Homo sapiens: one gene and its partners. The protein of the gene in region 1 interacts with the protein of each later gene in a pairwise test. Each region holds a gene or a part of one and is shown on either strand. Other genes may lie near its edges. The genes, in order: PSMA3, PATL1, STX6 and KIRREL2.

Region 1 (7,148 bases):
TGTTTCTTACCTACTATTTTCCACAGCCTTCATAGCATATTCAACTTGAAAAACTCTTCCGTCAGGAGAGAATGTAGAGGCTGACAGGTCATACTTAAGGAGAAAAGGGCAACAGTAAGCTTGTATCTTTGGCAGTAATGACCATACAGTTTCTTCCCCTCTAAATGGCTGAAACATCAGGAACCTGTTATATCCCAACAAAGACCTTGCTTTCAAGAGAGGAAAGGGAAACTTGTCAGAGCAGCAACAGTAGCTAAGATAAAGCTATATACCTTCGATTTCAGCTATTGAAGAGTAATGGATACAGGTCCCAGGTGAAGTCAGAACACTTTTCACCCAGACTACAAAACTCATTTTTGAAAAAGATTAATATGGGGCAGTAGAACCAGCACTGGAGTTCGAACATTTAAATTTGTAACGATAACTCTGCCATTAACAAACTAAAAGACTTCAAACAAATCATTCGGCATTCACCAAGCAGTTAATGAGTATCTATTATGTTACTATACGGAATACAAAGGTATACTCATTCATTAAGTCCTTCAGTTTCACATCAGACATGAATCTAGGTGCTAGAGGTACAGCAGTAAATCAGAAAAGGCACTAAGATGAAAATAAAAGAGTAAAGCAATGAACTACTACAGACTACATCATCAGGGAAGGCCTTCTGGGCAGTTATATTTAGGCTGAGTCAAACCTAAATGACAAGGAGCTAGCCATTTAAGATATGAAGGAAAAGTCTTCTTGACATTTGGCACAAAGATCTTAGGGTAGAAATAAGGCTAGCACAGTCAAGAAACAGAAATAAGGTCACTGTGTCCCAAGCACTGTAAGCAGCAGAAAGAAGAGTAAACTGTGTTAGTGAGGTAGCTGAGGGCCAGATTATGTTGTGTCTTCCAGGATGGAAAAAGGACTCTGTATTTTATTCTAAATGCAATGAGAAATTTAAGCAGGGGGAGTGGTATCATCTATATTTTTAAAAACATCATTCTGGCTTTATGCGGAAAATAAGCTGTAGAGAGAACAACAGAAGCAAAGATAAGGTGTTCCAAAGATAGCGGTAGTAGCTTAGACGAGAGAAGAGGTAGAAGGGAATATTTTTTGAGAGTAGAGTAAAATATAAAAATAATAAAAATAAACTTGCTAGGCCAGGCGTGATGGCTCATGCCTGTAATCCCAGCACTTTGGGAGGGTGAGGCGGGCTGATCACAAGGTCAAGAGATGGAGACCATCCTGGCCAACATGGTGAAACCTCATCTCTACGAAAAATACAAAAATTAGCTGGGCGTGGTGGTGCGCACCTGTAGTCCCAGCTCTTCGGGAGGCTGAGACAGGAGAATTGCTTGAACCTGGGAGGCACAGGTTGCAGTGAGCCAAGATCGTGCCACTGCACTCCAGCCTGGCAACAGAGCAAGACTCCGTCTCAAACAAAATAAAAATAAAAAAATAAACTTGCTAAAGCGTTGGTTCTGGGAGTAAAGTAAAAAAAGGAATTAAAGATGAATAACAGATTTTTTCATATGACCATTCACTGAGCTGAAGACTGTAGTAGATGCAAAATGGCAAGGTGAGGAGAAAACCCAGAGCTCTACTTTCACATGCAGTACGAAATGACTATTAAACGATCAAGTGAACAGACATGTCAAGCAGACAAACAAATATTCGTATCTGGAGTTCTTGGGAGAAATGAAGACAGAAGAAAAGCCTTCAGCAGTGGTACTTTCTGAGTCTGTTTCCTGATCTGTTAAACCCAGATCATTAACCCTACCATTGTTACTAAAATATCCCACATGGTTACATTATCAAGTATTCTTTAAAAGGTTTGTAGAATGAAATACTATTAATTCAAGGTAATATTAATATAATTGCAAAGTCAGTTTGCTACAAGATTTAATATTGAGCATTTACTTATCCAAGAAAAGTATGGCAGAACTTTAGCATTCATAACTGAATGGATTAAACCATTCCAGACATAAGTTGCCTATTATCAAATTTAGAACACCGGTACTTGAACTTAAGGCTGAGCATGAGAATCTTGTTAAGAAGTAGAAATTGAGGAACTGAGAAACTCATTATTCAATAACTCTAGTGCAAATAACCAATAAATCTTTTAGAAACTGTATTTTCTATATAGAGAAGTACATAAAAGGAGTAAACTGACTGCACATATGCAATACGTTTAACAAAGGAAAGCCAAACAAGTTAACAAGTCCCACTGCAAAATCCTCAACAGTCTATGAAAAGTCTGAAGCTGTTAAGTTCCTAAGTAACCATTTAAACGTTTACGGAATAAATGCCTACAAGCGCTGTTAGGTAATTTGTATAGGAAAAACGAGAAAGGAAAAACTGAAGGATTCATCAGATTGTTTTTCAGACCATTTTTATTAGTTCTGTTCCGACAGGATTTCCAGTGACTCTTAAACTGAGCGGTCAATGATCTGCACACTTAAAGACAGAGAAGGCCTGTGAATCAGCAGCACCCTAGGAACTGCAAACGCAGTCCACAAAAAGCACGATCTCCAGACCCCGGAATCCCAAATCTCACTGCCTCGGTGGTTCTCAAGAGAACACACTATTTCAAGCCCCACGAGTTTCCACTTTCGGTTTCCCTAAGTGGCTGAAGAAAGTGACTCAGCAATCCAAAGCGGCTCCAAACCTCACTGCGGCGACGCCAAGCCGGCTACACCTGCGCTGAAAAGCTTCAGGAGTCACGGTCACCTGAGACGCAGGCCTAGCATATAGGGGATAAAGACGACCGGTCTCCAAACAGCTGCAAATGGCCCACCCAGCCGAAGGCGGTCTCAGAGCACCCCGGGTCCGCGAACCCCATGTGGTCTGTCCGAGTTCCCTTCAACCCCAATCCTTAGGTTAAACTATTACACCGACAGACAGCGAACTCACCCCAGTGCCGATTGAGCTCATCGTGCTAAACCCAAAGGGACGCGTAGGGATTCCAGGCCCGGAGCGCTTCCCCTATACCACAGGATGCCGCAAACTAGTAACAGGCCCGCTCATTGGCTGAACTGCCAACCAATAACCTTTTTCTCTGTGGCTCGTTCCGCGGCTCCGGCCCCCAGGACGAGGAGTATTGTGGGAAAAAAGCGGGCCGCGAGAGGCTGGCGGCGCGCATGTGCAGAAGCAATGGAGGCGGGGTTGGGGAAAGCAAAGGCTCCTCCTTCGGTTCGCGTACTTTGAGCCGCTTGGCGTCGTGGTATCTGAGAAGCTGCTCTATTCCTTTCCTTGGAATTATTATTTATCTTTTATATTATTATTCTCTCCTCACTTTATTCTTTCTTTAAGCCAAAGGGAGAGATGCTGGTATACTCTCACAAAAAGTAGAAAAAGCAGTAGGCGCGAAGTAACCTGTCTTCCTCCGCGTCCCGACCCTGACCCAGAATCTTGATGGCATCCACTTCACCTCCTTGTGCTCAGGCTCTCGTGAAGTTTCACTTAAAGGGTATCGTCTTTGAATTCAGCTTAGAATTTTACGGAAGTATTAGTGCTCTTTCTATGAGTATAACGCTTTTTGGTAAGAGTTAAAGATAAGTCTGATTAAAGATATTTTTTGAGCGCTAGTATATTCCACGTGTTCAAGAAAAAGCCGTGAACAGAGCATACCCCCATTTCTAATGTAATTTCCATTCAGTGGGAATAAATAGGTAACAATAAATAAGCAAAATAGTAAGAAGAAAGAGTGCTTTAATAGACAATGGAGGTACTAACTTTAGGCAGTGTGCTCAGGGAATGACTTTCTGAGTGAGTGATATTTAAACTAAAATAGGGTAACAAAAGACAGTGGTTTAGGGAACAGTAAAAAACTTGGCTTGCGCTGGGAACTGTCACGTCAGAGTGACCTCTCATAATGATTAAGTGGGGAAGAATGACAGGAAGAGAACAAGTGCACAGGAGACCAAATCTTGAAGTGGTTTGAATTTTAATCCGATTGTAAATAGGGCATCAGCATTTTTTTTACTCCTAAATATTAATACGTCAGTGTGTATTTTCCCCCAACACAGGAACATTATTTCACAGAGACACAGTATTATTGTGAAAATCAGAAAATTACCAATACTATGATCTATCAACTTTATGCATTTTTTTTTTTTTTTTGGTAAATGGCCCAATAATGTCCTTCATAGCAAAAGAAAATCCAAGATCACACCTTGCATTCAGTTGTCATGTTTCCAATCTGCTTTAGTCTGGAAAATAGTTGCTTAGTATTTCTTCAGTTTTCATGGCATGAACACTTTTGAAGAATACAAACCATTTATTTTGTAGAATATTCCTTAATTTAGGTTTGATTTTTTTGTTATTTGATTCAAGTGATGCATTTATGGCAGGAATACTACAGAAATGACCTTGTATTCATTCATGTCAGAGCATTACATTAGAAGGGACATGATGTTAGTTGTTTTATTGCTGGTAATGTTAACTTTGATCACTTGCTGAAGATTTATCCCTGATAATGTTTCATTTTTCCCTTTGTAATTAGTATCTTGTGAGGAAATACTTTGAGAATATGTACACATCCTGTTTACGCCTCAACATTTCACTCATTAATTCTAATATCTGATGATTCTTATTTGAATTGATTATTACAATGGTTGCCAAATGGTGATTTTCTAATTCCATCATTCTTTTCACATTTATTATTGGTTTTCTACTGTGAGGTTATCAGGAGTTTTTAAAGCAAGAGAATTATATGATTTGATTTAAATCATTAAATGACCTCTTGTTTCTGTGTGAAGAATGATAGCTAAGGGAAAGAAGAGAGGCAGGGATACTAGTTGGAAAGTTATTGCACTTTTGTGAGCTAGCAGTAATGGAGAGTGATTTGGACTAAAGTGGTGGCAGTGGAGGTGGAAATATGTAGATGGATTTCAGATGTGTAGGGAGCTATGGTTTGAATGTCCCCTTCAAAACACGTGTTGAAATTTAATTGCCAATGTAATGGTATTGCGATGTGGGGCCTTTAAGAGGTGATTAGGTCATGAGGGCACTATGGATGAATGACATTTTCAGAATGGGTTAGTTATCTTGGAAGTGGGTTCCTAATAAAGGGGTGAGTTTCACTGGATTTCAGCTTTCTCTGTCTCACATATTCGCTTGCTCTTCTGATCCTCTGTCATGGGATAACACAGCACAATGCCCTTGCCAGATGTCAGTGCCATGCTCTTGGACTTCTAAAACCATGAGCCAAATAAACTTTTCTTGTTTATGAATTACCTAGTCTGTGGTATTCTGTTATAGCAGCAGAATATGGGCTAAGACATAGGGCTTGCAGAATTGGGTATAGAAAGTAAGGGGGAAAAAGGAATTTCAGTTACTTTTGCTTTTTCCTGCTAATGAAGCATTACAATTGATGTTTTTATTCTTGAACAAACCGATAGATAAAAGGACTTGAATGACTTGGAAGACTAGCCACTTAATTTACCTAACCCTCGTTAAAACATTCTAGTTGTAAGTGGTTTTTTTTTTTTTTTTTTGAGACTGAATCTTGCTCTGTCACCCAGGCTGGAGTGCAGTGGCATGATCTCTGCTCACTGCAACCTCTGACCCCCGGGGTTCAAGCGATTCTTCTGCCTCAACTGCCCGCGTAGCTGGGATTACAGGTGTGCACCACCATGCCAGGCTAGTTTTTGTATTTTTAGTAGAGACCGAGTTTCACCATGTTGGCCAGGCTGATCTCACACTCCTGACCTCAGGTGATTCACCCTCCTTGGCCTTCCAAAGTGCTGGGATTACAGGCGTGAGCCACTGCACCTGGCCTCTAGTTGCAGTTCTTTCCTGGGGAGTTCGGATTTAGACCAAGATAGTCCAAGAAAGTGTTGAAGAAAGCTAAAGGTTAATAGTTGCAGAAGGTTTGGCCTTGGAGGTAAACCGTAAGTACTCAAAACTTGTTTAGGTATCAGTTAATCTTTTAATTAACATCATTACTTGTGTGTGATAAACACTATTTGAGTGCCTAGTGCACTCAATATTTATTAATAATTAAGAATTTGGGGGTTCTTTCGGCCGGGCGCGGTGGCTCACGCCTATAATCCCAGCACTTTGGGAGGCCAAGGCAGGCGGATCACCTGATGTCAGGAGTTTGAGACCAGCCTGACCAACATGGTGAAACCCTGTCTCTACTAAAAATACAAAAATTAGCTGGGCGTGGTGTTGCATGCCTGTAGTCCCAGCTACTCCGGAGGCTGAGGCTGAGGCTGAGGCAGGAGAATTGCTTGAACCCGGGAGGCAGAGGTTGCCGTGAGCTGAGATCACGCCACTGCACTCCAGCCCAGCGAGACTCCCTCTCAAAAGAAAAAAGAAAAAAAGGCCAGGCGTGGTGGCCCATGTCTGTAATCCCAGTCCTTTGGGAGTCCTAGGCGGGTGGATCATCTGAGGTCAGGAGTTCAAGACCAGCCTGGCCAACATGGTGAATCCCGTCTCTACAAAAATTAGCCAGACATGATGGCGGGTGCCTGTAGTCCCAGCTACTTGGGAGGCTGAGGCAGGAGAATTGCTTGAACCCGGGAGGCGGAGGTTGTAGTGAGCCTCATGCCACTGCACTCCAGCCTGGGCGACAGAGCAAGACAACTCTAAATGTATACTATTTTATGACATATGTTATTTTTAAATTGAATACCTCAGGAAATGTGATGCCCAATGTTTCTAGCTTCCAAATACTGTGCTTTGGGGATACTATCCTAAGAATTCTTTGTTATTTTCAGGTTTACAAATTGGTCTTTAACTTGCACTGCTAAGTAGTAGTATAAACACCACACCCCTCTCCATTATCACAGAAATTAGAAGAATTTCTTTTTCTTTTTTTTTTTTTTTTTTTGATATGGAGTCTCGCACTGTCGCCCAGGCTGTAGTACAATGGCGTGATATTGGCTCACTGCAACCTCCGCCTCCCGGGTTCAAGCGACTCTTCTGCCTCAGCCTCCCGAGTAGCTGGGATTACAGGTGCCGGCCACCATGATCGGCTAAGTTTTTGTATTTTTAGTAGAGACGGTAGTTGGGGACGGGGGGGTGGGGGTGGGGGGGGGTCACTATTTTGGCCAGGCTGGTCTCGAACTCCTGACCTCGTGATCCACCTGCCTTGGCCTCCCAAAGTGTTGGGATTACAGGCATCCCGCGCCCGGACAGAATTTCTTATCTAG
Region 2 (7,027 bases), on another chromosome or scaffold:
CTGTTGTCCAGGCTGGAGTGCATTGGTGCCATCTCAGCTCGCTGCAACCTCCACCTCCTGGGCTCAAGCGATTCTCATGTCTCACCCTCCTGAGTAGCTGGGATTACAGGCGTGTGCCACCACATCCAGCTAATTTTTGTATTTTTAGTAGAGACGGGGTTTCGCTATGTTGGCCAGGCTGGTCTCGGACTCCTGGCCTCAAGTGATCTACCCCCCTCGGCCTCCCAAAGTGCTGAGATAACAGGTGTGAGTTACCACACCCGGCCTAAATGATACATTGAGTTTTGCAGTAAGTTATTAGACTATGAGTAAGGGACAGAGGAAAGTAAAAATCTTCTTTGAACACTGCCTGCCTGCATTGCTGACTTTTTATTTTGTTGGAATTTTTTTTTTTTTTGTCTTTGCAGTGCAATTTGAGGGCTCTTTGGGAAAGCTTACCGTTTCTAGTGTGAATAATCCCCGAAAAATGATTGATGCTGTTGTGACATCTCGGAGTGAGGATGATGTAAGTGTCAACACAATTGTCTGTTTAAGAACGTCTGATTTGTGACCACTTCTTTTGGGGTCACCATGGAATGAGATCAGGCATGGTAGAGTTGTTTGTAGTCTAACCCGGGGCCTCCCACCTCGTCATGCATTCTAGTTTTCCACAGATGTGCTGCAGTATTAACACCTTCATTTCTAAGGCAGCCAGGCAGGGACTAGGGTGGCAGGAGTCTTTGGATTGGGTAGCTCTGGCTGCAAACAGCATGTATTTACTCCAGTTTGATGTTAAAAAAATTATCATTTTCTATGTGTTTTAAGATTTTCAGGAAGAGGATCAGAAAGAATAATTATGGGGCACTAGGCTTAGTACCTGGGTGATGAAAGAATTTGTACAACCCCCATGACATAAGTTTACCTATGTAACAAACACATGTACCCTATAACCTGCACGTGTACCATTGAACCTAAAATTAACGTTTAAGAAAAAAAAAAGATTTTCATATTTCATATGATTTCCTTATCCTCTACTAAGGTTGCCCTTTGCCTATCTGTGAATGGAATTTAATAGTTTGTGGATTGATTCAGTCAACTTTGACCTTTGTTCATACTAGGGTTGTTTTAGATTATTAACTTTCAGAGAATCAATTATCTTCTCAAAGTATTGTCACAAATGAACCTACAAATGCGCACTTGGTAAATTATTTTAACAGAGATAAAGAATTTGCATTGAATAGTCTTCTCTTTTTTAGGAGACAAAAGAAAAACAAGTTCGAGACAAGAGGAGAAAAACCCTTGTTATAATTGAGAAAGTAAGTTTAGAATTTGTTGCTGTAGTTAGTTTCAAATACGGAACTGTCAAATGTATGTATATACTAGAACTGAAACAGTGAGCAATCAGTCAATGTTCTTTGGTTTTAATTCATGAATATATTGCTGGTAAGTGACTATTGTGTACCACATAACTTTGGAAAGGATTATGGTATGTTTCACCTATTGGCATCATGGAAAGAACACTGCAGTTAAAGTTGGAAGTGTATTGGGTTTTTGTCCAAGCTTATTCAGTTAACAGCTGAGTGTCTGGGCAAGTCACCTTTCTAAGCCTGATAAAATGGGAATGAAAATTACATTGTCCTACCTGTGGATTAATTTAGTTCACAGATATTTACTGGGCACTATTCTGGGTGCTGAGGAAAATAATGGATATTAATAGTTGATTTGTAAAATGTAAATACCACATTGTAAGGCCATACACCATAGTGGTTGAAAGTATGGACTCTAGAACCAAGCTGCAAATCATGTCTTTTTCCATTTCTGAGTCTGTAACTTAAGGCAAGTTATTTAACCTTTCTATGCTGTCCTCAGTTTCTTTATCTGTAAAAATGGAGATGATAGTAGTAGTTTTCTCTTTGGATTGCTTTTTTTTTTTTTTTTTTTTCCTTTTGAGATGGAGTTTCACTCTTGTTCCCCAGGCTGGAGTGCAATGGCGAGATCTTGGCTCACTGCAACCTCCGCCTACCGGGTTCAAGTAATTCTCCTGCCTCAGCCACCTGCGTAGCTGGGATTATAGGCATGTGCCACTATGCCTGGCTAATTTTGTATTTTTAGTAGAGATGGGATTTCTCCATGTTGTTCAGGCTGGTCTTGGACTCCCAACCTCACGTGATCCGCCCATCTCAGCCTCCCAAAGTGCTGGGATTACAGGCGTGAGCCACCGCGTCTAGACTATTTTACTGTCTTTGCCTGCTAGAATAGAAGTCAGAGAGAGACAAAGAATGGTGGTTTGAGGAATTTTTTAAGTTATTTCATATGGTTTTCTACATTAAAAAAAAAAAAATCTCAGTCTTTCTATAATGAGTTTGTCTTTAGCTAGTAGTCCTAAACTGTGAAATTGTTTAACTAATACTGTGGTTCTGACCTAGCATGCTGTGGCCTGCTTTTGTCTCCCTTCTTAGACCTACAGCTTACTCCTTGATGTGGAGGACTATGAAAGACGTTATCTCCTAAGTCTGGAAGAAGAGCGACCTGCCCTAATGGATGACAGAAAGCACAAAATTTGTAGCATGTATGACAACTTAAGGGGGAAATTGCCTGGACAAGAGAGGTAAGCATCGTGCAGTTTGAGGAAAACATTAACTGGACTCCTTCCTCTGTCATAACTGGATTTCATACATTTTTGCCTTTTAGGTACACTTCCCTACCATCTCTGTAAGCTCAGAATCTATCCTTTTAGCCTAACTCAAATGCCACTTCATTTAAAATACGAATTATCTTTTCCAGTGAGGAAAGAAAAAAAAAGTCTTTATCCTGAATTTATTCATTCAACAAATACATAGTATCTGCTGGGGACAGTGCTAGGCACTAGAGATATAGTGGGTAACGTTATTGGGTTTTTGTGCTTACAGATTGCACCTGATTTATGATTACTAGCATGTTTAACCTTGTAATCTTTATATATTTCCTTTATTACTAAGATCAGATGTACAAACATTTATACTTCCTGGGATTTCCACAAAATATTTATATCCTATCGAAACCCTTCAGTCTTCCAATGGGGAATCCCTCACCTACCCCATTATCTGCAAAAGAATCTTGCTGATGTTAAATGTTCTGTAAATCCTGAATACTTATTCGATGTATTCAAGAGAACTACAACTTCTAACAACTCCCTTTCTTTTTACCCGTTCAAGAGAATTACTTATCCTTCTAAGCCAGGACATACACAAAACCAAACATAAGAATAAGCACTTTGTTTTCAACACACCGTGTCTGGAGTTAGGCTGACAGGGAACTGGTTAAATAAATGGTTTATCCATAGATTGGATGTTATGCAGCCATTAAAATGTATGTAGTTGAAATATATTTATTGACATGGAAATAAGTTGTTGAGTGAAAAAAGTCAAGGTACAAAACCATATGAATTATATGGGCCCATTTTTTTATGAAAGAAAAAATATATAATACAAAGCAAAATGTTGTTTAAAATGGTAACACTAATTAACTCTGAGTTGACGAATGTTTTTATTTTCTTTTTTCTTTTTTTTTTTTTTAAGCTGTTGCTGTTAACCATATGGTATTTGTGTGGTTACTTAAAAGTTAAGAGAGGAGGCCAAGCACTTTGGGAGGCTGAGGTGGGCAGATCACTTGAGGTCAAGAGTTCAGAGACCAACCTGGCCAACATGGTGAAACCCTGTCTCTAGAAAAATATAAAAATCAGCTGGTCATGGTGGCGGGCATCTATAATCCCGGCTGCTCAGGAGACTGAGGCAGGAGAATCACTTGAACCCAGGAGGTGGAGGCTGCAATGAACCAAGATAGCGCCACTGCACTCCAGCCTGGGTAACAAAGCGGGACTTCGTCTCAAAAAAAAAAAAAAAAAAGAAAAAAAGTTAAGGAAATTAGTGCATACAGTTGGCCAAGTTTTTTTTAACCATATAATTTGTGAAATGATTATTTTCTACATTTGTAAGACCTGAAAATTTACTTTTTATTTGGTTGAGATTTGGAGAAGTGATTCCTACTGTTTTATAGTACAGGTTATTAGAGAATGAAAATGAATGCAGTATATTCATTCAGTAACATCTAAGAGGAAAAAAATGAGGGTTTCTTAATTGTTCTTGCTGACCTAAGCTGGCATTTTTCTTCCTTGCAGGCCTAGTGATGACCACTTTGTACAGATCATGTGTATCCGAAAAGGGAAGAGAATGGTTGCCCGTATTCTTCCTTTCCTCTCCACAGAGCAAGCAGCTGACATTCTCATGACAACAGCCAGGAACCTCCCTTTCCTTATCAAGAAGGATGCACAAGATGAGGTGACTATGCAAGATGGGACATCTTTCTTTTGAGTCTTTATAAGTGATAAGATTTCTAGAATGCAAACTTATTTTCCTCTCCTCTTCCCTTTTGTATTTTTGTCTAATCTTTGGCTGTGTGATTTGATTATTTAAAACAAAACCTTTAGTATTTCAGGCCTATATTTTTAATCCCATATTTGATGGAACAGACTATGTTTCTAAACATGAGAAAAACAACAATTCCCTCTTACTTGACATAGTTGTAAAGATGTGGTCTGTATCAGAATTACTTGCGTAGATAATTCAACTCCACCCCAAACTGCTGAATCAGAATTTACAGAAGGATTAGGGTTTTTGTATCTTAGTCTCCAGCTGAATCTGATGTTCACTGAAGTTTGAAAACTTATAGTCTTGGTTATTTTGCTAGATATGAAGTATCATTCATTGTTCTGTTATCAGTAGCTTAACATTAGCCTGTAGACTTAGTTAAATGGTATCCCACAGCAACTGAGCTAGTCCCCTTTTGGTTTTTTTTTTTTTTTTTTTTTTGAGACAGAGTTTTGCTCTGTCACACAGGCAGTAGGGCAATGGTGTGATCTCGGCTCACTGCAGCCTCCACATCCCAGGCTCAGGTGATTCTGCCACCTCAGCCTCCTGAGTAGCTGGGACTACAGGCATGCGACACCATGCTCGGCTAATTTTTTTTTTACCTTTTGTAGAGACAGGGTTTTGCCACATTGCCCAGGCTGGTCTCAAACTCCTAGACTCGTGCAGTCCTCTTGCCTTGGCCTCCCAAAGTGCTGGGATTACAGGCTTGAGCTACTGTGTCCAGCCCGAGCCAGCCCTTTAAATAATTTTTATCATGATCTAGACTAGGCTGGAATTTTAACATGGTTATCACATGTACAAGTTAATTCTTGGTTAGAGTTTTTCTCTCCTTATCCTTGTCATAGCACACCTGAAAGATGAGCAAAATTTAGAATAGTCTTAAGAAGTTCAAAATAAGAAACTGATAAAAGTGGGACAAAGGATGAATATTAGTACAAGATTCAGAATAGTAGAATATATGGGAGTGAACCTGTTATAGACTACAAGTTGAGTAATAACGATCTAAGTAATGAGTCCCCAGAAAACACAGAATACCTTATAAATGGTATGCTATGAAAGGGAAATTATTCTTTCATAGATCCTTGAAATGTTAGCATCTGCAGAAGAAATGAATGAGAAGTTTAGGTCTCATTGAAAAAAGTGAAGTGGGTTGGGACAAGTATATATTTAAAAGATTTGGCTGGGCACAGTGGCTTACGCCTATAATCCCAACACTTTGGGAGGCTGAGGCAAGTGGATCGCTTGAGGCCAAGAGTTCAAGACCATCCTGGGCAACATGGTGAAAAACTGTCCCTACTAAAAATAGAGAAAAAAAAGAAAAAAATGAGCTGGACACAGTAGTATATGCCTGTGGTCCCAGCTACTCAAAAAAAAAAAAAAAAAAATTCCACAAATGAAAAATGAGTTAGGGAAAAGTTCCAGTATTTGAGGTTTATCCTAGAAAATAGAAGACCAGACTAAAAAAGTAACAGCTACCTTAGAGCATATAATTTGTAAGCAGTGTAATGGGCACTCATAATCCCACCAGAGCTCTTGTGTGGAAACAAGTTTGGGAGATAATTTGCTGAATACTTCTATGTGCCAGGCATTATTTTACCTCCTAGAAATACAACACCTAGTTCTAGGTGCTAAAAGATAAGAATGCAAAAATGCCTGCTTTCATGGAGCTTACCTGCTAGGAGGAAAGCTTGGCTAAATACCTAGGCTGATTTTTACCTGTATGTTTTAAGGAGTAATAAACCACATCTCTAAATACCATTTTCTTGAAGTAATAGCTGGTTCTAGGTCTGAATCATGAAATGTACAAGATATCCTGGAATATCTAGTGCCAGAAAGCAAGGAAGTTAATAGATTACTAGAGTCCTGTCTAAAGGATACACAAACCAACTTCAAGAGACTCATACTGGCCAAAAGTGGAATAATTTTCATCAGAAAGAACAGTTACAGCAGTAGATTGAAATATATCAAATATATTTAATGAGGTAATAGTGTTAAACATATATTGATCACCTTTGGAGACTACTAGGCCATCAACCCACTATTCAGAAAATTGGTAAATAAAGGAAAAGCATTTATCCTACCTTTCCATTACAACCAAATGTCATGGTAATCAGAGAGTTGATAATACAAAGTTCTTTGTAGAAGAATTTTAGCTAATAAATACAAAAGAAATGATAAAATTAGAAAATAACTGTTTTTGCAAGCCTCAACAGAGAAGCAGTCAATCTAGACAGCACTCATTACTGGCTGCTAAAAGCAGTAGGTAAAAAGTGGATGGGGGGGGAAGTGAGGGGCACCTCTGCCTGGCCGCCCCTACTGGGAAGTGAGGAGCCCCTCTGCCCTGCCACCACCCCGTCTGGGAGGTGTACCCAACAGCTCATTGAGAACGGGCCATGATGACAATGGCGGTTTTGTGGAATAGAAAGGGGGGAAAGGTGGGGAAAAGATTGAGAAATCGGATGGTTGCCGTGTCTGTGTAGAAAGAGGTAGACATGGGAGACTTTTCATTTTGTTCTGTACTAAGAAAAATTCTTCTGCCTTGGGATCCTGTTGATCTGTGACCTTACCCCCAACCCTGTGCTCTCTGAAACATGTGCTGTATCCACTCAGGGTTGAATGGATTAAAAAAAAAAAAAAAAGTG
Region 3 (7,027 bases), on another chromosome or scaffold:
CAGCAGTCAAGCAACAAGTCCCAATAAAATATGGTTCATCTGCCAAAGGAACAACAAATGTCCTGGTTATTTATGCTTCTGTTCCCATTTCACACTGTCTTCCAAGCTGAATGAATGAGACATCATAAACCCCAGTGCTTCCCACTCATAATTCTTACATTTCAAGGTCATCTGTGCTCACACTGGATACTTCACCCTTTTTGATTAACCAAAGCCATTTCCATCTTGACTTACAATTGACTGTAAACAATTCTTACATTGGAGCAGGTTCGGTTTTTTCATGGAGAGGGTAATAGTTCTAACTTTTAAAGTCAGAGAATGTTAGTGAGGATTATTTCATAGATAAAACTGAGATCCAGGGAGGTTGAATGACTTACCATGGTTAAGATTTATTAAGGTCACAGCTTAGCCTAGAACTCAGGTTCCCTTACCCCTTATATTCACCATTATTCTGCCATATACTGCAAAACCTCTTGATCCTAAAGTAAAACCAAAGTCACTTCTAGGATATATTTCTAAAACACAAAAATTTCACATGTGGAATCTTTGATGTATAGGTGACTCCACAAGAGTAAAAATGATTACCTCAAAAATATGAAAGCTATTTACACAAAAATGTGAGTATTTTGGTTCTTCACTAAAAACTGCCAGCAAAACTGGATTTGTACAGACTTAAAAGATGCTTGGAAAAACATACACAAAACTCTAAACAAGGAAAGCTTACTAAAGGCATAACCAATGGACATTAATCAAGAAGAAACAGGCGATTTACTTCTTCAGGTTGAAGCAAATAAAGAAAAAAAAAACCACAAAATGCATAGAGTATCACTGACTCCCCTGCCTACAAAAGAGAAAGCATAAGTAGAATACACTGTTTGAAAGATAAAGTCAATCAAAATTTTGGAGCAATATTAAATGAAAGCCCACTAGTAATAGTAACAGAAGAACTAACATAAATTTGTACAAATTCCTAATTTGAACTTCATTTCATCTCATTTTCCAAATCTGCTAACCCTCTGCTCCCTCTCTATCGAGCTCTTCCACCCAGAACCCAGAAATCTCTACATACAAACACTGTTTAGCTAAATGTGGTAATGTGGAATTATACAAGGTATATTTTATTTTTAATCGAGTTAGCACCATTGCTATTTCCTCCTCTTCTATAGGACTTTCAACTAGAATTTATTACAATCAGATCAGCAAAAGCTCAGTTAGGTACTGTTAGCCTACCACTGGTAAATACTAACAGCTTCCCCCAAAGGGGTCATAAATTTAAACAAGAATGATTTAAAACCCTAAAATATTCAGGTGGATCACATAGTTGAGTATGGTTTAGATCTCAACTCTAAAAGGACAGTAAGATTTTGAAGTACTGACTTGATTTGGAATACCTCTCATTACTCTGTTCTCACATTGCTATAAAGAACTGCCCGAGACTGGGTAATTTATAAGAGAAAGAGGTTTAATTGACTCACAGTTCAGCATGGCTGGGGAAGCCTCAGGAAACTTACAATCATGGCAGAAGGAGAAGCAAGGCAACTTCTTCACAAGGCAGCAGGGAAGAGTGACAGAGCAAAGTGGGAAGAGCCCCTTATAAAACCATCAGCTATCATGAGACTCACTCACTATCATGAGAACAGCATGTGGGAAACTGCCCCCATGATTCAATTACCTCCACCTGGTCTCTCCTTTGACACATGGGGATTATGGGGATTACAATTCAAGATGAGATTTTGGGTGGGGAAACAGCTAAATCATATCAACCTCTTTCTAAGAATGTACTTTAAAAAGCTTTTCAGATATTAGAAAATGAACTTTGGATTCTTCTTTCCATTATACCAATGAACTTAATTTTTAATATACGAACCTCTAAATTTCAATTTGCAAACTTCCTAAGTCTACCTTGCAGAAATAAATATAATGATTAAGGTTAAGGACATATGCTTCACTGCAAGGCCCCACTTAAATATTAACGTCTATAGGAGTATCCTTCAAAAAACCTACTACTACAAAAAAAAAAAAAAAAAAGCTTATACAAAATAATTGGGGATTTACTTATCTTACAAAAAATATGTCACCTAACAACAAGGCTTCCTCATCAGAACAGTATTTTGAACTGGCTAGAAATTAAGAATGTCCAATCCAAACACTCACTGTGGATGGGGCATCTGAGGTCCAGAAAGGTTTCTCCCTCATTAAAATGTGGGTTTATCTATAAACAATTTACGTATATGTATATAGAAAGGCAACTAATGAATAAAACAAGTAACAAGAATATATAAAGTTCAGTGATAATCTACCATTTGAAATAATTTCAAAAGGAAATCACATGATATAAAGACTTTGGCAAACACAAACTAAGGTTCCTGCCTAAGATGACTCTTAAAAAGCCGTATGTTAGCACTGGTATGATCCCAAGTCTTTTTATTCAAGGAAGCTGCTTTCTAGTACATATGTTAAAGACAGCTGGTTCTCTTACATCTAGTTATGCTAATCAAATGGCTTAGCCATATAGTTTCAAAATATGAAACATTTTAATGACACAAGATTGTACTTAATATTTTTTCTCAGATTCTTTAATAATGGGTATTATTCTAAATAACTTAGAACTAAAGATTTGTTCACTTGGATCAATTTTTTACACTCTGATAGATGCTTGTTTGCTCTGGATAACTCTGGAACGGCTGTCAAGTAGTTACATATGGAAATGTCAGTATCTTGGGTTGCAAGAGTTCCAGAAGCAATTCAGATGGCGGAAGAGGCCGCTATCCAAACCCACTAAGAGTCACTCTTCAACAATGCGAAGTGATTACCAATCAATCAAAAAACCAAATGGTTTCTACAATAGCAATTGTTTTGTTCGTCAAGAAATAGAGTACACTAAGAAATAAAAAGTGAGAAAGATAACTAGCTTGAAGAAACTAGAGGTATGGACAAGGGTCTAATCATTCAGGATGACACCATTTGAATGTACCCTGCCCAAAGCCAGCAGATTACTGTCTCATTTTTGCTCTCGGAAATAAGCCTGACAGGCTGGGCATGGTGGCTCACGCCAGTAATCCCAGTACTTTGAGAGGCTGAGGCAGGCAAACTACTTGAGTTCAGGAGTTCAAGACCAGCCTGAGCAACATGGTGAACCCTGTCTCTACAAAAAATTAGCCTGGTGTGGTGGTGCACGCCTGTAGTCCCAGCTATTTGGGAGGCAGAGGTTGTAGTCAGCCAAGATCATGCCACTACATTTCAGCCTGGTCAACACAGTGAGACCTTGTGTCAAAAAAAGAAAGATTAAAAACAGATTTCTTTTTCTTCAATCACGGAAATTTTTTTTTTTTTTTAAGGTACAGTGACGTGATCATAGCTCTCAGCCTCAACCTGATCCTCCCACCTCAGCCTCCCATCTTGGTCTTCCATGTAGTTGAGACAACAGGTGTGCACCACCATGCCCAGCTAATTTTTATATTTTTTTTTTGTAGAGACAGGGTTTCATCATGTTGCCCGGACTGGTTTCAAACCCCTGGGCTCAAGTGATCCACCCACCTCCACCTCCCAAAGTGCTGAGATTACAGGCATGAGCCACCATGCGCAGCCAATCAGAGAAATTATATATGGGGAAGCTCACATTTAATTCATATTTAAAAAGTGGTTTCAGAGGTGACCTATTAGTTTACAATTAAGGGAAAGAGCTCTAAGAAGTCTGGCTATTTCTTATACAGATAACACAATAAGATCATATTCCTTACCCTGACAACTTGCCGAGTACTTGTAATGAAGGCTTTTCTTATACTCAATTCAGTTGCATCAAGGTTAAATTTTCTAGGATTTGCTTCAACTATGCGTAGGTCAAAAAGTCAAGGTAAAACAATTTCATCATCAAAGCCTGACAACATCCTGTTAACTCACTGAATCTCTCACATGCAAACAAATAAAATCTGGCTCAAACTTTCTGAAAACACAGTCAGCTGGACACCAATCATTCTCAGACTTCCTCTGCCCACAGCCACAGGAGGGAGGATCCCTTTGCTCCAAGACAGAGATGATCTGTCTGGTTAGGAAGCATAGCCCCTGCTGATGAGCTTCACTGCAAACACTTAGGGCTATCTGACCACAGGTGAGCTGGGCTCTTCCTGTTTGCCAACACTTGTGTCTATCCTTTTTTGACTCCTGATCACCTTTACTAAGACAGCTTTTGCAAGCCTTTTTCTCCTGCCATTCCAAACCACTTCCCATTATGCCAAGATGCTAACCCTACTTCTTAATCTAGAGAGATCGGGCCTTCTTCAGAGAAGCTGCCCTCATTCCCTTACCCTCTAGCCTGGTCCGACGCACCATGTCAGACACTTGCATAGCTCTCTATACTTCTCGTTCATAGTCTGCAGGTATCTATTTGTGTTATTACTTGATTACCATCTGTCCCCCATCCCTATCCACTCAAAGTTCTGTGAGGGCTGGTATAGTGTTTATTAATCTAATCTCTGTAACCAACAAAATGCCTGGCACATAGTATACTCAATAAACACTTGCTGGTTGAATGATGAGTATCTATTAAAACTTTTGTTTTTTTAATCTCACATTTTCTCTATCTCCCCTAACTTTTTTTCCTTCCCTCCTTTCTCAAGGGAAGAATTATCTCCCTGTAACTGTGCTTTTGATCCTGCCCCCTCACATATTTGCCACTAATTTTAGAGAACATACTTGCCTTTTAATAATGTAAAAGGTACCAGGGTCATCATGAATAACAAAAATTATTTACTCCATGTATCAACTGCATACGAACCTGTGCTAACTATAAGGTGATCCTGACAGAAGCTGGTTTCCTTATGTTTTATCTCACTTAGGGAAAAAACAAAACAGAACTCAGAACATGCAAGTGGCATATCTTCCATCTAAAGTTTTGGTTAAGTGGGATTTCCAGTTGGAAAAAAAGGCTATATAATGAAGTTTTTACAGTTCTCCAGTGCATGAGTCAGATCAGTGGACTTACTTCACATCAATACCATGAATTAGCAGAGCAGATCTGCTTTTACTAAATGCAGTTTCATGGAACAAGACATCTCTTCAATGGACGGTAGCACTGTAACATCACTTCTTAAACATGAAGACAGTCTACAAAAAGATTTTTTGATCTCTAATTACCGAAGTGTAACACTGGCCTGTATGGACCTCTATATGATAATGACTGCTAACACTATTACATAAGCTGTGTGCCAGGTGCCATTCTAAACTCTTTACCTGTATAATCCCAATAATCCTATGAGCTAGGTACTCTTGTTATCCTAACTTTCCACTAAAGAGGAAACGGAAGCACAGGAGGTTAAGTGATGAGCCCAAGTCACATGGTAACTGGTTGTGATACTGTAATAAATGCAAATTCGGTCTCTGCCCCCTCATTTCTGGCACACAGCTCCTTGATCCCTTGGAATCTCCAGATGAGTATCTTTTGTATGTTAATGGGATAATTGATGGCTGGGGGTTTCTAGATAGCCTCAGGACGAGGGGCTGGTCCCCAGAGAAACCAACCATGTGATTAGACAGTTGAAGCTTTCAGCCCCCTGCTTAACCCCACCCCAGGGGAAAGGGGCTGAAGGCTGAGCTGATCACCAATGGCCAACTGATGTGATCAATCATGCCTGCGAAATGAATCCTCCACAAACACCAAAAGGACAGAGTTCAGGAAGCTTCCAGATAGGTGAACATGTGGAGGTTCCTGGAGGCACCTGAAGAGGGCCTGGAAGTGCTGCACCTTTTCTCCCATACCTTGCATGCATCTCTTCCATCTGGTCATTCATCTGTATCCTTTGTAATATCCTTTACAACAAATGGATAAACCTAAGGAAACTGTTTCCCGGAGTTCTGTGAGCTGCTCTTGCAAATTAAATTAATTCGATCTATGGAGGGGGTCGTGGGAACTCCAATTTATACGTGGTCAGTTGGAAGCGCTGGTCACAACCTAGGGCTTGCAACTGGCATCTGAAGTGGGGGCAGTCTTGTGGGACTGAGCTCTTAACCTGTGGACCTGATGCTATCTCCAAGTAGACAGTGTCAGAAATATCATACTGACTTGAGTGTGAGGGTAGAGACTTAAAAAAAAAAGAAAAAAAGGGTTTTTTTTTTTTCCCTTTACATTGGTGGAGGCAGGACTTGAACACCAGAAATCTGACTCCAGGGTCCACAGTCATAATCATTACACTATGCTGCCTTTATATATATATATACATTTATAGTACAGGATTTGTCACACACTGTATAAGAATTTGGCTACTGTACCTTAAGTTACTGGGCAAATACTTTAAACATGTCATGGTACAAGTAAGAGCAACAAACATTAATCGATTATAAAATGTTTCATCTACATACTGGAAACAACTGGAGAAAAACTTGTCCATTTGTCTATTTATCCCGAATGGCACAGACACCACAGAAAAGGATATTGATGGTTTCATCAAGGTCCTCTAGATCCCACTCTATGCTCCGGAGGTTATTTCTCAGCTCGTTGGTGGTCCAGTCGATTTCTTCCCTTGTTGCTGTGGAGGGGTCCTGGAGGAGCTCTGTCCATCTCTGAAACAATCCCTGGGCAGTGTTGACTGCTTTCTGTACCTCTCTGTAATCAAGATGAGGCAAAGGAGAGAAATCACAGACAACATTCCATGGTCAAGTTACTGCATGATTTAGGTTAACATTTATGATCATACACCATCCTCAGCAACCACCATTCCCACAGAAGGCTCTTCACAGACAAATATCAAAGTTCAAAACTTTGATACACAGTCTGAGTATTATGTTCTCAGCTGATGCTTGGAATACAATAGCCATTATTTAAGCAGCTACAATATCAAGTTTGTTGGGGAAGGACAAATTTAATATTTTTCTCTGAACAGACTATACGTAAAAGTATAATGAAGCAATCCTACAAATTAACTAAAGGGCAATGAGCATTCCCACATGCTTCCACTTGGTGTGACAGTATTAATAATTTATACTCAGATGATAAGTCCTAATATGGCCTTTCTTTTCTTGGTGTGGGAGGAAT
Region 4 (6,991 bases), on another chromosome or scaffold:
ACCATGCCTGGCTAATTTTTGTATTTTTACTAGAGACGGGGTTTCATCATGTTGGCCACGCTGGTCTCGAACTCCTGACCTCAGGTGATCCATCTGCCTCAGCCTCCCAAAATGCTGGGATTACAGACATGAGCCACCGCACCTGGCCTCCCTTCCTTTTTTAGTAGACATCAGTGCCTAAATGATGTCAGGGATCTCTGCTGGGGAGGATGCAAGAGTGAGTGTGACAGGCTGGGAGAGTGTGGGAGAGAGGGAAGATATGCATGTGTGTACGTGGGTGTGAGAGTGGGGAAGGTTAGAGTGAACTGCGATCTGTAATAAGCATGTGGAGAGCGTGTGTGTGACAGTGTCTTACGTGGGAGTGCACAGGGTGTGGGCGGGAGTAAAAGGCAGAGTCCAATTCCACCGGCCCCCAGTGTGGGTGCAGTGTGAGCCCAAAGTGGGCGCCCTTTGGCAAGGACTGCATGAGCTTTCTTCTCCCTCTTTTTCTTGCCCTCTCTCCCATCTCTTCTTTCCTTCTCCATGTCTCTCTCTCTCCCTCCCTCTATCTATCTTGATTTATCTTTCTTTCTTTTGAGATGGAATCTTGCTCTGTTGCCCAGGCTGGAGGGCAGTGGCATGATCTTGGTTCATTGCAGCCTCAACTTCCTGGGCTCAGGTGATCCTCCTGCCTCAGCCTCCTGAATAGCTGGGACTACAGGTGCACACCACCACTCCAGCTAATTTTTTAAAATTTGTTTGTAGAGACAGGGTCTTTCTCTATTGCCCAGGCTGGAGTGCAGTGGTGTGATCATGGCTCATTGAAGCCTCAAACCTCCTAGGCTCAAGTGTTCTTTCTGCCTCAGCCTCCTGAGTAGCTGGGACTACAGGCCCGCATCACCACTCTGGCTATTTTTTTTTTTTTTTTTTTTTTTTTGAGAGGGAGTCTTGCTCTGTCACCCAGGCTGGAGTGCAATGGTGCGATGTTGGCTCACTGTAACCTCCGCCTCCCAGGTCCAAGCGATTCTCCTGCCTCAGCCTCCTGAGTAGCTGGGAATACAGGCATTGACCACCACACCCAGCTAATTTTTGTATTTTTAGTAGAGACGGGGTTTCGCCATGTTGGCCAGGCAGGTCTCGAACTCCTGACCTCAGGTAACCCACCTGCCTTGGCCCCCCAAAGTGCTGGGATTACAGGTGGGAGCCGCTGCACCCCGCCACTTGGCTAATTTTTTTTAAATGTTTTTGCAGAGACAGAGTCTTGCTATATTGCCCAGGCTTGTCTGGAACTCCTGGGCTCAAGCAATCCTCCCATCTCGGCCTCCCAAAGTACTAGGATTACAGGCATGAGCCACCGCACCTGGCCCTTGATTTATCTTTCTTTTTTTTCTTTTTTCTCTTTTTTCTTTTTTTGAGATGGAGTTTCACTCTTGTTGCCCAGACTGGAGTGTAATAGTGTGATCTCGGCTCACTGCAACCTCTGCCTCCCGGGTTCAGGCGATTCTCCTGCCTCAGCCTCCCTAGTAGCTGGGATTACAGGCATGCGCCACCACGCCTGGCTAATTTTTTGTATTTTTAGTAAAGACGGGGTTTCTCCATGTTGATCAGGCTGGTCTCGAACTCCTGACCTCAGGTGATCAGCCTGACTCGGCCTCCCAAAGTGCTGGGATTGCAGGCGTGAGTCATTGTGCCCAGCTGATTTATCTTTCTATCTTTCTCCATCTGTTTGAGACTCTCTCGCTCTCTATATTAAGTTGTTAAATCTCAGTCAATCTTTATTTCACTGTGTCTCTCCATCTCTATATGTCTCTGTTATTCTGTTTCTCTGTCTCTGTTCTCACCTCTGTCGCTCCCCTCACCCCACAGTCTGTCTCACACACACCAGGAGCTCCATAAATATTTGTTCTCAGCCACACTCTGACCACGCCTCTTTCTCTTATGTGTCTCTCCATCTCCGAGTGGCTCTGCTCATCACATCCCTGGATTTTATAACCATATGCTGGTGGGCCTGCCCTCCCCGCGTGCACATACACTTGCCTGGGATAAGCTTCTTCTGCCTGCTTATCTCCTGCGGGAATTGGAAATGCTAGTTTTCTCCCTACCTCCCCAAGACCCCCGCCAATATCGTTCCCAGGAACAAGATGAGGCATCTGGCCTCAGCCCCCAGCTTCATCCTCGATGCTGGACTTCCATCTTCCCTCACATGCTTGACTCCTTGCCCTCCTCCCACCTCCCCTCTCCCAACTGCTCTCTACACCCCCTGGGAAATGGGCTGGATGCCGAGCTGGGGGAGTGGCTCTGTCCTGGGGGCCCTCGCCAGATGGTGTCCCTAGGTGCCAGAGCGTGGAGCTGTCCCTTGCTGGGGCCTTTAATAAGCACAAACCTTCCACCCTCCACCTTGGCTGTTTTCCTTCTCTGCATGCTCCTGGGACCTTGGGCTCTCCATCTTTCCATGTCCGTAGCCCCAGAGAGCCAGGAAGGGGAAGCGGCGTCAAGTGCCTGGAAAAACAGCCCCATGACTTGAGTTCCTCCCTAAGACTCAGGAGTTCCAGCCCCATGTCCATCCTATTTCAAAATCCAGGCACTAGATAAGCCACACAGAAGCCGGGAGTGTAGGCCCCCAGATCCCTCCCCTCTCAGACCCTGGGGTCTCAGTCCCTTCTCTCCAAGGACTCGGGAATTTGGGCCTCTGATCCTCCTGGCCACACTACCCACCCCCGCACCTCCCCATACACACACACACACACACACACACACACACACACACACACACACACACACATACACACAGGACTTAGGACAGATGTTCACGGTCTGATTTCCAAATCCTCCTGGGCCTGTGTGGGGGTGGGGAGAGATTGGCAGATAGATCCACCGACTCTTAAGACTTAAGACCAGATATTCTGACCCCTGTCACCCTCTTCCAAGTGCACCATGCACTTGAGTGCACCTTGAGTCTCCAGCCTCTCAAGGAACCGGGAGATCAGGCCATCAGCGTCTCAGCCAGCAAAGGCCTGAACCACCAGTCCCTTATAACCCTGTAAGTCCAACCCCCACTCCCAACCCCACTCCCCCATTTAGGGACACGGAGTCTGAGCCTAAGAACAGTGGAGAATCTGAATGTGGACCCTCCAGTTCTTACAGGTCCAGGAATGTCAGATCAGGGTCCCAGCCCCCCAGCCCTCCTTCAGGCTGCTCGGGGTCCCTCCCACCTGCTCGGCCAGCTGCGCAGCGTGGGAACGCCCCAGCTGGGCTGCATGGAGCCGTCAGGACAAGCTGCGCGGTTCCCAGCCTCCCTGCCTGCCCCGGCCCGGCACCGCCGCCTCCCAGCCGTCGCCGGGCAACCAGGCCGAGGGGCCCGGCCGGCCGAGTGGGGAGAGGGGTTGGGCTGGGACTGCGGGGTCCTGGGAAAGGAGGGGCCGAGGGCCTGGATTCCTGGGTCTTAGGACGTGCTGTAGTTTGCAGCAATAACAAGGGAACAGAGGGATATTTTGAGGAGGGGTTTTGAGGCTGGGGGAGTCGAGGTAGGGGTCCCAACTGTCCCCCAGGTATCGGTGTGCCCTCTTCCCGACACGCAGGCCCGGGGGAGCCCCGGACCCCGCATCCCCCAGGGCGCGGAAACTGGCGAGGCCCCAGGAGCTCCCATTTATAGCTCAGTTTCCACTGAGCGCAGTCCCTCTAGGACCTGGGCTGAGCAAGTTTCTTCCACTCTCTCCCTTCCCTCCTCCTCACCCCTTGCCTGCCCCTCAACCCCGGCAGGGCGCAGGTGTCCAACCCAGCCGGGACCCCCTCCCTCCTCGAACCCAGGTGTTCCGGCTCCCAGACCCCAATTGAGCTGGGGGCGCCCACCCGCCGGGGGATCCCGCCCTGCGTCCCCCATTCATCCGCGTCTCAGCCGCGGGAGTTTCTCAACGGGAAGAGGGCGGAGCTCCCGGGGGGCGGACCCGGGCGGGGCGAGCGGGATCGGGCCCTCTTGGGGTCTCCCAGAGACCCAGGCCGCGGAACTGGCAGGCGTTTCAGAGCGTCAGAGGCTGCGGATGAGCAGACTTGGAGGACTCCAGGCCAGAGACTAGGCTGGGCGAAGAGTCGAGCGTGAAGGGGGCTCCGGGCCAGGGTGACAGGAGGCGTGCTTGAGAGGAAGAAGTTGACGGGAAGGCCAGTGCGACGGCAAATCTCGTGAACCTTGGGGGACGAATGCTCAGGATGCGGGTCCCCGCCCTCCTCGTCCTCCTCTTCTGCTTCAGAGGGAGAGCAGGTACCGCACGAGGGGAGCGGAGGAATATGGGGTGGGGGTGGGGAGTTGCTTGCGGGCTGCCTCTTCACTAGCGAGAAGGGAGCTGGGGGCTGGGACTCCTGGGTCCTGAATGAGGAGGCCCCTGAAGGTGCTAAGCTCAGCCCTGCTGCCCCGAACTCTCCTAGGCCCGTCGCCCCATTTCCTGCAACAGCCAGAGGACCTGGTGGTGCTGCTGGGGGAGGAAGCCCGGCTGCCGTGTGCTCTGGGCGCCTACTGGGGGCTAGTTCAGTGGACTAAGAGTGGGCTGGCCCTAGGGGGCCAAAGGGACCTACCAGGTAAGAGTGTTCTCTCCACGCTGGGACGGGCTGGCTAGGGGGAGAGTTGCTGGGCTCGGCTGTACCTGCAGTTTCTATTTTGACATTTTCAAGTTTGGGAAATTGATGGGCTCGGGTAAACATTTAGGAGTCCTGATTTTTGAGCTGCTTCTTTGGGGGTGACCCACGGAGTTTGGGAATTATTATGTTATTGCAAAATAGTACATAGGCCAGGTGCAGTGGCTCACGCCTGTAATCCCAACGCTTTGGGAGGTTGAGGCCAGAGGATCGCTTGAAACCAGGAGTTTGAGACCAGCCTGGGCAACATAACAAGACCTTATCTCTACACAAATGTATATATATATTTTAAACAAATTAGCCGGGTATGGTGGTGTGCATCTATAGTCCCAGTTACTCAGGAGGCTTAGGTGGTAGGATTGCTTGAGCCTAGGAGTTCAAGGCTGCAGTGAGCCATGATCAAGCCACTGCACTTCAGGCAATGGTGAGACCCTGTCTCAAAAAAAAAAAAAAAAGAGAACATAAATGCAAAAAAGTACAGTAAATATAAATGGAAGATTTACCAAATAAAATAGACACACACAGCCAATACCCAAGTCCATTGCTAGCTCCCCAGAAGACCCCGTGTTCCTTTCCCCTATCATAGCCCCCTCCCCCTCACTCCAGAAGTAGTATCTAACCTAATTTTTATGGCAATCATTTTCTTGCTTTCCTTCCTGACTTTATTACCCCTAAGTTTGCAGTGACTCTGGGTTGGGAGGGAGTTAGAGTCTCTCTGGGCCCAGTACACACTTTTTAATAGTGTCTTACCACCAAATGTGTGGGCCAGTTTTCTGGTGGAGGATGTCTGGGGATGGAGGCCTGAGGCCAGGATTTCAGAACCATGGTGTGCTGACTGCCTTCTCCCTGACTCCAGGGTGGTCCCGGTACTGGATATCAGGGAATGCAGCCAATGGCCAGCATGACCTCCACATTAGGCCCGTGGAGCTAGAGGATGAAGCATCATATGAATGTCAGGCTACACAAGCAGGCCTCCGCTCCAGACCAGCCCAACTGCACGTGCTGGGTAAGGACCTCGCCCACTTGTCCCCTGGGAGCCCAAGAGGGCAGCCCGTACTAGCTGTGAGTAGCAGAGCCCAGGGAGCCCAGGGGCATGGTCAATTGGAGCTGAGAAGATCAGGATCCATCTCTGACCCCAAATCCACCTTGCAGTCCCCCCAGAAGCCCCCCAGGTGCTGGGCGGCCCCTCTGTGTCTCTGGTTGCTGGAGTTCCTGCGAACCTGACATGTCGGAGCCGTGGGGATGCCCGCCCTACCCCTGAATTGCTGTGGTTCCGAGATGGGGTCCTGTTGGATGGAGCCACCTTCCATCAGGTCAGGTCCAAATTCCTGTGCTAGCCTTTGCCCATTGAGGGAAACTTGGGTTACACTCTGACCACAGGCTCATCCAGAAGAGAAGAAGACATGGGAGGGCAGAGGTTCATGGGTTTGGACTCTTGAAATATGATGCAGGGTAAAGATTCTAGGGCCAGACTACCTGGGTTCAAATTATGTCTCAGCCACTTGCTAGTTGATTGATCTTGAGTAAGTTAGTTAACCTCTCTGTGCCTCAGTTGCCTTATCTATACAATCAGGATAATAGTAGCATGCATGTCATAGGGTATTGTGAGAATTAAATAAATAAATACCTATAAATGCCCAGAAGAGTGACCAATACATAGTGAGCACTATATAAGTAAGGCAAGCTTGTCCAACCTGCGGCCCATGGGCTGCATGCAGCCCAGGATGGCTTTGAATGTGGCCCACCACAAATTCATAAACTTTCTTAAAACATTATGAGACTTTTTTGTAATTTTTTAGCTCATCAGCTATCATTAGTGTTAGTATGTGTGGCCTAAGACAATTCTTCTTCCAATGTGGCCCAGGAAAGCCAAAAGATTGGACACCCCTGATGGGTAGATGGCATTATTATTCTTATCCTTCCCTCCAGACCCTGCTGAAGGAAGGGACCCCTGGGTCAGTGGAGAGCACCTTAACCCTGACCCCTTTCAGCCATGATGATGGAGCCACCTTTGTCTGCCGGGCCCGGAGCCAGGCCCTGCCCACAGGAAGAGACACAGCTATCACACTGAGCCTGCAGTGTGAGTGCAGCTGGCCCTGGGAAAGAGGGGTGTGGGGCCCTGACTCCTGGGTATGAGGAAGGAGGGGACTGTGGCCCTTGGGGAATGAGGAAACTGGAGCCTGGACTCCTGGATCTAAGATAGCAGGAGAGGGCTGGGTATGGTAGCTCACGCCTGTACTCACAGAACTTTGGGAGGTCGAGGCAGGCGGATCATCTAAGATCAGGAGTTCGAGACCAGTCTGGCTAACATGTCGAAACCCCGTCTCTACTAAAAATACAAAAATTTGCCGGGCGTGGTAGCACACACTTGTAATTCCAGCTACCT

Evidence for each region.
Region 2: the proteins of PSMA3 (region 1) and PATL1 interact in binary tests that used the Homo sapiens proteins (3 or more experiments, as listed by UniProt).
Region 3: the proteins of PSMA3 (region 1) and STX6 interact in binary tests that used the Homo sapiens proteins (3 or more experiments, as listed by UniProt).
Region 4: the proteins of PSMA3 (region 1) and KIRREL2 interact in binary tests that used the Homo sapiens proteins (3 or more experiments, as listed by UniProt).

Annotation. Positions count from the first base shown.
Region 1 is NC_000014.9:58,240,695-58,247,842, reverse strand, and holds the start of PSMA3 (proteasome subunit alpha type-3), read right to left. Parts: upstream 3,001-7,148; 5' UTR 2,923-3,000; coding exon 2,902-2,922; intron 94-2,901; coding exon 11-93; intron 1-10. UniProt on the Homo sapiens protein: Component of the 20S core proteasome complex involved in the proteolytic degradation of most intracellular proteins. This complex plays numerous essential roles within the cell by associating with different regulatory particles.
Region 2 is NC_000011.10:59,645,022-59,652,048, reverse strand, and holds part of PATL1 (protein PAT1 homolog 1), read left to right. Parts: intron 1-407; coding exon 408-505; intron 506-1,235; coding exon 1,236-1,295; intron 1,296-2,438; coding exon 2,439-2,587; intron 2,588-4,135; coding exon 4,136-4,295; intron 4,296-7,027. UniProt on the Homo sapiens protein: RNA-binding protein involved in deadenylation-dependent decapping of mRNAs, leading to the degradation of mRNAs. Acts as a scaffold protein that connects deadenylation and decapping machinery.
Region 3 is NC_000001.11:180,998,866-181,005,892, forward strand, and holds part of STX6 (syntaxin-6), read right to left. Parts: intron 6,599-7,027; coding exon 6,429-6,598; intron 3,836-6,428; coding exon 3,741-3,835; intron 1-3,740. UniProt on the Homo sapiens protein: SNARE promoting movement of transport vesicles to target membranes. Targets endosomes to the trans-Golgi network, and may therefore function in retrograde trafficking.
Region 4 is NC_000019.10:35,852,947-35,859,937, forward strand, and holds the start of KIRREL2 (kin of IRRE-like protein 2 isoform c precursor), read left to right. Parts: upstream 1-3,964; 5' UTR 3,965-4,173; coding exon 4,174-4,234; intron 4,235-4,398; coding exon 4,399-4,548; intron 4,549-5,461; coding exon 5,462-5,611; intron 5,612-5,757; coding exon 5,758-5,918; intron 5,919-6,534; coding exon 6,535-6,685; intron 6,686-6,991. UniProt on the Homo sapiens protein: May regulate basal insulin secretion.